Linked DNA regions of Homo sapiens. Each later gene encodes a partner of the first gene's protein in a complex. Each region holds a gene or a part of one and is shown in the gene's direction. Other genes may lie near its edges.

What was found.
Region 2: USH1C (region 1) and CDHR5 share a complex: the UniProt entries of both Homo sapiens proteins name them as parts of the IMAC/intermicrovillar adhesion complex.

What each region holds. Positions count from the first base shown.
Region 1 is NC_000011.10:17,534,417-17,537,916, reverse strand, and holds part of USH1C (harmonin), read left to right. Parts: intron 1-3,500. UniProt on the Homo sapiens protein: Anchoring/scaffolding protein that is a part of the functional network formed by USH1C, USH1G, CDH23 and MYO7A that mediates mechanotransduction in cochlear hair cells. Required for normal development and maintenance of cochlear hair cell bundles.
Region 2 is NC_000011.10:622,156-626,307, reverse strand, and holds the start of CDHR5 (cadherin-related family member 5 isoform 1 precursor), read left to right. Parts: upstream 1-1,352; 5' UTR 1,353-1,405; coding exon 1,406-1,490; intron 1,491-1,575; coding exon 1,576-1,751; intron 1,752-2,044; coding exon 2,045-2,095; intron 2,096-4,152. UniProt on the Homo sapiens protein: Intermicrovillar adhesion molecule that forms, via its extracellular domain, calcium-dependent heterophilic complexes with CDHR2 on adjacent microvilli. Thereby, controls the packing of microvilli at the apical membrane of epithelial cells.

The sequences.
Region 1 (3,500 bases):
TCTCAATTCTGTCACTTCTCTGAGCCTCTGTTTCCTCATCTGTAAAGTGGGGATGATAACGTTCACCTCAGAGGGTTGTTAGGATATTAAAGATAATACACGTAAAGTTCCTCAGGCAGTGGACAGTCAGTAGGGAGAGGCTGGCTGGGATAAGTGAGCCAGACAGAAAGAGACTCAGGCTGGGAGGCAGGTGAGGAGGCTCCAGACTCTAGAAGAGGGGACTTGGGCCTCATCTGAAATGAAGGCAGGATTCAGATGAGAGGAGGAAAGCTGTCCATTGTGGATAGATGGAGTCGCTGGGACCTACTTTTTTGTGATGAATTGGAAGTGAACTAAGGGGAGGCAGACCCAGAATATATGTGCTGAGGACCAGTGGAAAGGTGGTGACCCAGGCCTGGGCCAACAGGTCAGAAAGAAGGCTCTAGACTAGAGCAAATAGAGTTCACGTTTCATCAACGGACGCCACTGGGCACCGTGCGCTTGTGTGCATGACATGGTTCTGGGTTCCACAGGGAAATGAAGAACATGTTTGGAAGGAAGGGAAGAAAGGAGTGTGGGAGATTTACTGCGTGCCTAGTGCTTCGTATGTACCTGAGTACAGGGTACTGGGACAATGGTACAAAGCACCCTAGAGCAGGGGCTCCCCAAAACTGATCCTCGGGCTAGTGCTAGGCAGAATTCCAGAAGAGAGGAAACTATATAATTTTTTAATATTGGAAAAGTAATTTGATTTGGACCACAGGGAAGACTACAAAGAAAAAGTAATTTAAGTGATGGTGGTATTGTTACTGCACGTTCAGGCTTTAGAGAAACTTCCATCTTTCTCAGCTTTCTTTCCTGGTGCCTTTTAATGCCTGAAGAGTGAGGTGTGAGTGTGTGTTTTCACTCAGGTGTGGTCAGAGAACAAAGCAGTGCTGTTCTTTCTGAGTCTTTCTGAGATATTTCTGGGTGAGAATGATCCCTCCCTTTGCAGGATCTCCTGTGTAACCAGTTTTCAAGTTTTTGATGATCTATCACTTAGATTCATATTTAAAGAGCATTCTACACAAACCAGATCTATTTTCCCTGTTAGCTGGTATGGTCTATAGAGAATTGTTTAAATAGACAAGTCAGACATGGCGGTAGATGGAATGTTCTGAGTGAGGACAAGGAGATTCCAGTGTGTCAGGGGAAGGATCTGTTCCACTGCAGCTGAGTCCCACTTGGGATGTGGTGAAGCGAGCAATGGCAGAACTGAGGACAGGGTTTGAGTGACCTAACCGGTGACAGTGGGTGGACATGAGGCCGAAGAGCTGAGCTCTGCAGCTGTCTCAGGAGACAGGTAGGATGAGACCTCTGGGAGCAGTGGTCAGTGCTGGAGGGCTGCTGACAAGGGCCAGGAGCCCGGGACCTTCAGGGACAGGCTCCTTTCCACCAAGACCATCTCCAAGTGATCTGTGCTTGGCCCAGGGAAGGGAGAAAAACAGAACCCTAGACCCTAACATTGCAAGTTACCTTACTCTTCTACCTCAGTTTTCCACCTAATGCACAATAAACATGGTCTAAGGAGGACAGTTCCTCACTACTGAAATCTAATGCTACAGCAAGATACATTTCTGCAAAGAGGGATAAGAGGGAACTTCAGTCCTAAGGCCTCAGTCAATAAGAGATTCTCTGTCCCATCTTCTTTCTTGTGTCACCACCCAGGGTTATAACTAGGCTAGAAGTCTTTAGTCAGGGTGTCCTCTCTTCAGCCAAAGCAGACGTGATTTTTATGCTCCCCTTAGAAAGTACAACACTTGGGTTCAAAGAGTCATTCAAAAGATGTCCCATTTTCTCACTCATTATAGACCAAGCCAAAAGTGTTTTCTTAACAGTGCAGAGGAGAGAGATGGGGCTTAGAGATAAGAAAGGAGTTCTTGAAAGCAAAGGGTTGGAAATTTTGGCCTAAAGGGACATTGGGAGTTATTTTCCCCTGCCAGGCCTGAGTCACAATCAATGGTCATCGTGGCGTAGCAGAAAGAACATGGGCTTTGGAGTCAGACTTAGGTTCATATCCTAGCTCTGCTTATTAGCTGTGGGACACTGGGTGAGTTGACTTAACCTCTCTGATCCTCAGTTTCCTCAGCTGCAGCATTATGTGAGAATATTGCCCCAATGTGATAAACAAATGGAATAAAGCCCATGAAAAGCTCCTGGTGCCACCGCATGGGGCATTATGGGGACAACATCATTTCCCTTCCCCTTCTGTTCCCATGGTTACCTCCCTCCCACCTGAACCATGTGGGCATACCAGGAGGCAGGCAGATAAATTCATTCAATACTTCTTTATTGAGAGCTTATTATGTGTTGGGCACGAGAAATTTAGAACAAAATAGATCTCATCTTTCCCCTCATGGGATTTTTCTGTCCAGCGAAGGTGACAGAGAAAACAATTCACAGAGAAAACAAACCTTAAATTACAAATTGTAGTCGATCTGTGAAGGAATTGAAACATCTCCGGGGTGCAGGAGTCGGTTCTGTCTGGGTAGGTGAGCAGGGAAGACCTCTCTGGAAAGGAGGTGGCCAGGCAGGGAAGTGGGGGAAGCAGTCCAAGCAGAGGGAACAAGCATACGCCAAGGCCCTGAGGCTGGAGAGCGTTCGGCCTGTGGGAAGAACTGAAAGGAGGACTTTGTAGCCAGGAAGACTGGTAGGAGAGGAGATTGGGCTTTGATAAGTCAAAGTAAGGAGTTTGGATTTAGGTTTGGTTTGGGGTACAAGAAACTACTGAGCAAGCAAGCAACATATCTAATTTATAAAGATATTTCTCGCCCCTGCTGCTAGGAGAGTTCATACTCCTCCATCACAGCCCAGTGTGGGCAGCCCAGGCCTGTCTCAGGGAGGCACCCCTGCCCCACAGGCCTGAGCAGAGGGGGTGAGAGAATCCAGGCTATGTGGAGAGATGAGCTTTCAGAGGTGGTGGGTGCGAAAGGCCAGCCTCCCACCCTAAGATTTAGTACCACCCACTCAAGCAGATGCTTCCATCTCCTGTCATCTGGGAGCTCCTTTTTTTTTTTTTTTTTTTGAGATGGAGTCTCGCTCTGTCACCCAGCCTGGAGTGCAGTGGTGCAATCTTGGCTCACTGCAACCTCCGCCTCCCGAGTTCAAGTGATTCTCCTGCCTCAGCCTCCTAAGTAGCTGGGATTACAGGGGCATACCACTACGCCCAGCTAATTTTTGTATTTTAATAGAGACAGGGTTTTGCCATGTTAGCGAGGCTGGTCTCAAACTCCTGATCTCAGGTGATCTGCCCACCTCGGCCTCCCAAAGTGCTGGGATTATAGGCGTGAGCCACCGCACCCAGCCCTAGCTGGGAACTCCTTGCACTGAGGTAGGGAGAAAGCAAGGGTGCCCTTTTGGAGCAGGTGGGCTGAACTTCTGTAGCAACTAAAGCCCAAGCTGTGAGTCAAGCCTCCCAAGTTATTCTCACCTTTAATGAAATGCTCAGTCTGATTTTATAGGGAAGGAGGTACTGTCAGATC
Region 2 (4,152 bases), about 17 Mb from region 1:
GCTGGGAGTTGTCTGTGTCCACTCAGTGTAATCGAGGCAACCCCTGTGTAGCGGGGCTGAGGGATGGATGGAGGCCCATCCACCCAGGAGGGACTGACCACACCCAGCTGCCCTTTACACCTGCAGGCACGGCGGCCCCTCATCCTTATCTCTGGCATCAGGGCCACCTCCTGTACCTCGACTAAGTACTGCAGGGCCCCGCCCCACCCCTTGTCATCCATTAGGAAACATTCTGGGGCTCGGGGGATCCCGGACACCCTCTCAGCTCCTGCCCGGGGGCCCATGTGGTCAGTGTTTCTGTAAGGGGTAGTGGGGAGGGTGTGAAGGGGCCAGGGGGGCTCAGGCGGGCAGGAAGAGGGGAGGGTGGAGGTGTCACCTGGGGTGCCAGGAATCCACTCTGGCGTGAGGACTCCGGACCCTCTGTCTCGTGTGGCCTCGGACCAGTGGCTTGACCCCTCAGAGCCTGTGGAGCACGGAGCGTGCAGGGCTTGAAGGCGACCATGAGGGCACCGTGCAGGGTTAGGACACTGAGCCCAGCCCCAGCCATGAGAGGCCAGAAGCTTCGGCGCACAGGCCTGGAGGAGGAGAACTCCACCTACCCCTCACGACAGCCACTTCCTCGCCCCGACCCTACCCAGTGGCCTCTCCCTAGAGCTGGGGGCTTCTGGGGGGCCAATGAAAAGAGCAGGGCAAGTGTCGAGTCTCACCTCACCCCCTCTGTCGGGCACCAGGGCCCCCCAGGAACTCCCAGCTGCCCCTCACAGCCCCGCCTTAGCCTCAGTCACTAAGGCCCTGTCCAGCCCCGCCCTGAGAAGCCGACTTGTCTCTGGGGCAGGCAGGGGTGTCCCCAGGACACAGTGAGGAGAGCCTTTTCCTTCAGAACCTGCTGTCAGGCAGGGAGGGAGGTGCTCCCTGGGGAACACCCGGGTTCTGAGCCTCAAGGGGTGGCCTTAGGAACTTTGCCTGAGGGAGATCTTAGGGGAGGAGCCAAGCCAGGGCAGCCTGGGCTAGGGAGGCAGGTTCCAGACACCCCGACACCAAGGGCCGAGCCCCCGCCCCCAGCCCCCAGCTTCTCTCCCACACCCTAGCCCTGCCCCTGCCCTGCCCCTACCCCCACGGCACCCATGAGCCGCTCTCCAGTCCCTTCTGCCCTGTGCCTCGGTGCCTGTGACCTGAGCCCCCTGGTTGACCCCTGCACTCAGTCCAACTTGGGCCAAACGACTGCCCCTCCTTCTGGCAGTGGGCTGGACCAGCCGGCCAGCGGGAGCCCCCTTGGCAGAAGCCGGTCGTAAAGGATCATAAACTGGGCGGCGTCTGGCTGGGGCGAAGGTCGCTGAGGTAGGAACTGCGCCAGTCCTAGACGCCAGACCCGCTCAGACCCTCCTGCCAGGTGACAGCCGCCAAGATGGGGTCTTGGGCCCTGCTGTGGCCTCCCCTGCTGTTCACCGGGCTGCTCGTCCGACCCCCGGGGACCATGGCCCAGGCCCAGTGTATGTGCGGGCAGGGGTAGGTGGGGCACGGGCGGCGGGGAGCCAGGGGCTGGGAGGCACTGATCCCTCCTCTGCAACCTTACAGACTGCTCTGTGAACAAGGACATCTTTGAAGTAGAGGAGAACACAAATGTCACCGAGCCGCTGGTGGACATCCACGTCCCGGAGGGCCAGGAGGTGACCCTCGGAGCCTTGTCCACCCCCTTTGCATTTCGGATCCAGGGAAACCAGCTGTTTCTCAACGTGACTCCTGATTACGAGGTGTGGGCGGCAGGCGGGCGGGATATGGGGGTCCCGGGAGAAGGGCACCTGCATCCTCAGGCCACACCTCCCTTGGGGGCCTAGGAGTTCTATGCCTGCGGGCATCCACTGACACCCATGCTTGGTGGTGCCTGCCCTAGAAGGCTGGGCCATTTCGGGATGAAGCTGCCTGGGCCCACACCCTCAGCACTGACCACTGATGATGGGGACCCTGGGCCAGCGCCTGCCCACTTGGCCTCAGTCTCCCCACCTGTGGGGCAGGACGGTGACTGCAGACCTGTCTACATCCACAGGAGAAGTCACTGCTTGAGGCTCAGCTGCTGTGTCAGAGCGGAGGCACATTGGTGAGTCCCCGCCCCGCTCTCCCCGCCCCACCCGGCCACCTCTGCTGGGCTCTGCCCTGCCGGTCCAGGACCAGTCTTTGATGACGTCAGCTAGGGTGTGGTTTCAAATTCCACCCCCCCGAGGGTGATGCCCACATTTCCTCCAGTCCAGACTCTGCCCTGAGCTGTGGAGTCCCCGTCACTGACCCCTTGTCCAGCAGACACCCCATCCAGTGTGCCCAAGACTCCCACCCACTCCCTCAACCATCCACAAGGGAGGCACCTTTATCCTGCCAGTCACGGGGACCACCTTGGTTCCCACTCGCCCTCCCTCCCCACGTGTCCCCCACAGCCCCCCACTGGTAAATCTGTTGGCTGTGCCCCAGCTCGACCCAGAAATCCAGAGTCTGTCCACCTCCAGTCCCATCAGGGCCGGGACACCAGCACTCATTTTGGGAAACTTCCAGCTGGCCCACCGGCTTCCCTGTTGCCCTTTGCTGGCCCCAGTCCACTCCACGTGGCAGAACAGCCCCTGTGGATGTTGTAAACCAAGGCTGCCCAGCCCACCCCAGCCCTCCACGGCTCCTTTCTCACCGAGTCAAACCCAGACATACTGTGCAGAGGCTCCACTGCAGCCTCAGGGCTCCCGCCAGGCACGCCCCTCCCTCACCGGCTCAGGACTGCAGTCTTCAGAGAAATCCCAACCACCCTATGCCCTGTTGCATCCCAGCCCCGCTCCCCCAACATCCTGCTTCTTGACCGGCGGCATTTTTTTCGGCTTTATTAAGGAAAATTGCAGAATCCTGAGGCCAGCACAGGCCCCCTCACCTACCAGCACACAGCAGGCTCTGTGCCCTCCATGCACCACGGCACGTCACCTGCACATATCTTGGGATATGTCTCTGAAAGAGAGAGACTCTTTTTTGAGACAGAGTCTCACTCTGTCACCCAGGCTGGCGTGCAGTGGAGCGATCTCGGCTCACTGCAACTTCCGCCTCCCGGGTCCAAGCGATTCTCCTGCCTCAGCCTCTTGAGTAGCTGGGATTACAAGCATGCGCCACCACGGCCGGCTAATTTTTGTATTTTTAGTAGCGACGGGGTTTCTCCATGTTGGTCAGGCTGGTCTCAAACTCCTGACCTCAGGTGATCTGCCCGCCTCGGCCTCCCAAAGTGCTGGGATTACAGGTGTGAGCCACCGTGCCCGGCTGACAATCCAGTTTCTTCACAAATAAATCTCCAGGAAAAAAGATGGGAGAAAGGGAAAGGTACAGATGAACAGAAACTCAGGAGAATTACCAACCAGGTCCATAATGTGGGCCCTGATTCAAACAAACAATTGTTAAAAAACCCTTCAGAGACCACGGGGAATGTGGCATCCTGGACATTTGAGGTAGAAAGTGACCGCTTTTCCCAGGTGTGACAACGACATTGTGGTTATGTTCTAAAAAGAAGAGTCCTGGCTGGGCGCCGTGGCTCACACCTGGAATCCCAGCACTTTGGGAGGCCGAGGCGGGTAGATCACCTGAGGTCAAGAGTTCGAGACCAATGTGGCCAAAATGGTGAAACCCCGTCTCTACTAAAAATACAAAAATTAGCTGGGCATGGTGGCAGGCACCTGTAATCCCAGCACTTTGGGAGGCCGAGGTGGGCAGAGGCCGAGGCAGGAGAATCGCTTGAACCTGGGAGGCAGAGGTTGCAGTGAGCCGAGATCACACCACTGTACTCCAGCCTGGGTGACGACAGAGCGAGACTGTATCCAAAAAAACCCAAAAACCAAAAAACAAAAACAAAAACCAAAAAAAAAAAAAAACAGAGAAAAGAAAATGGATTGTCTTTCCTCACCTGAGATTCTGCTGGCTGCATCCCCAAGTACCTGCATTATTTTTCTGTGGAGCACCTGCCACCTCCTGGCTTTATAAAGTCCTTTTTGTCTGTTGTTATAAGTCCTGCCAGGACAGGCACCACCAGGCAGAGATTTGTCTCTTGTGATCTCTGAATCCCAACGCCTAGAGCTGTGCAGCCCCTGTAGCCCCCCAACAACTGAATGAGCGAGTGGACGGATGGCCGTCGAGGGGTGC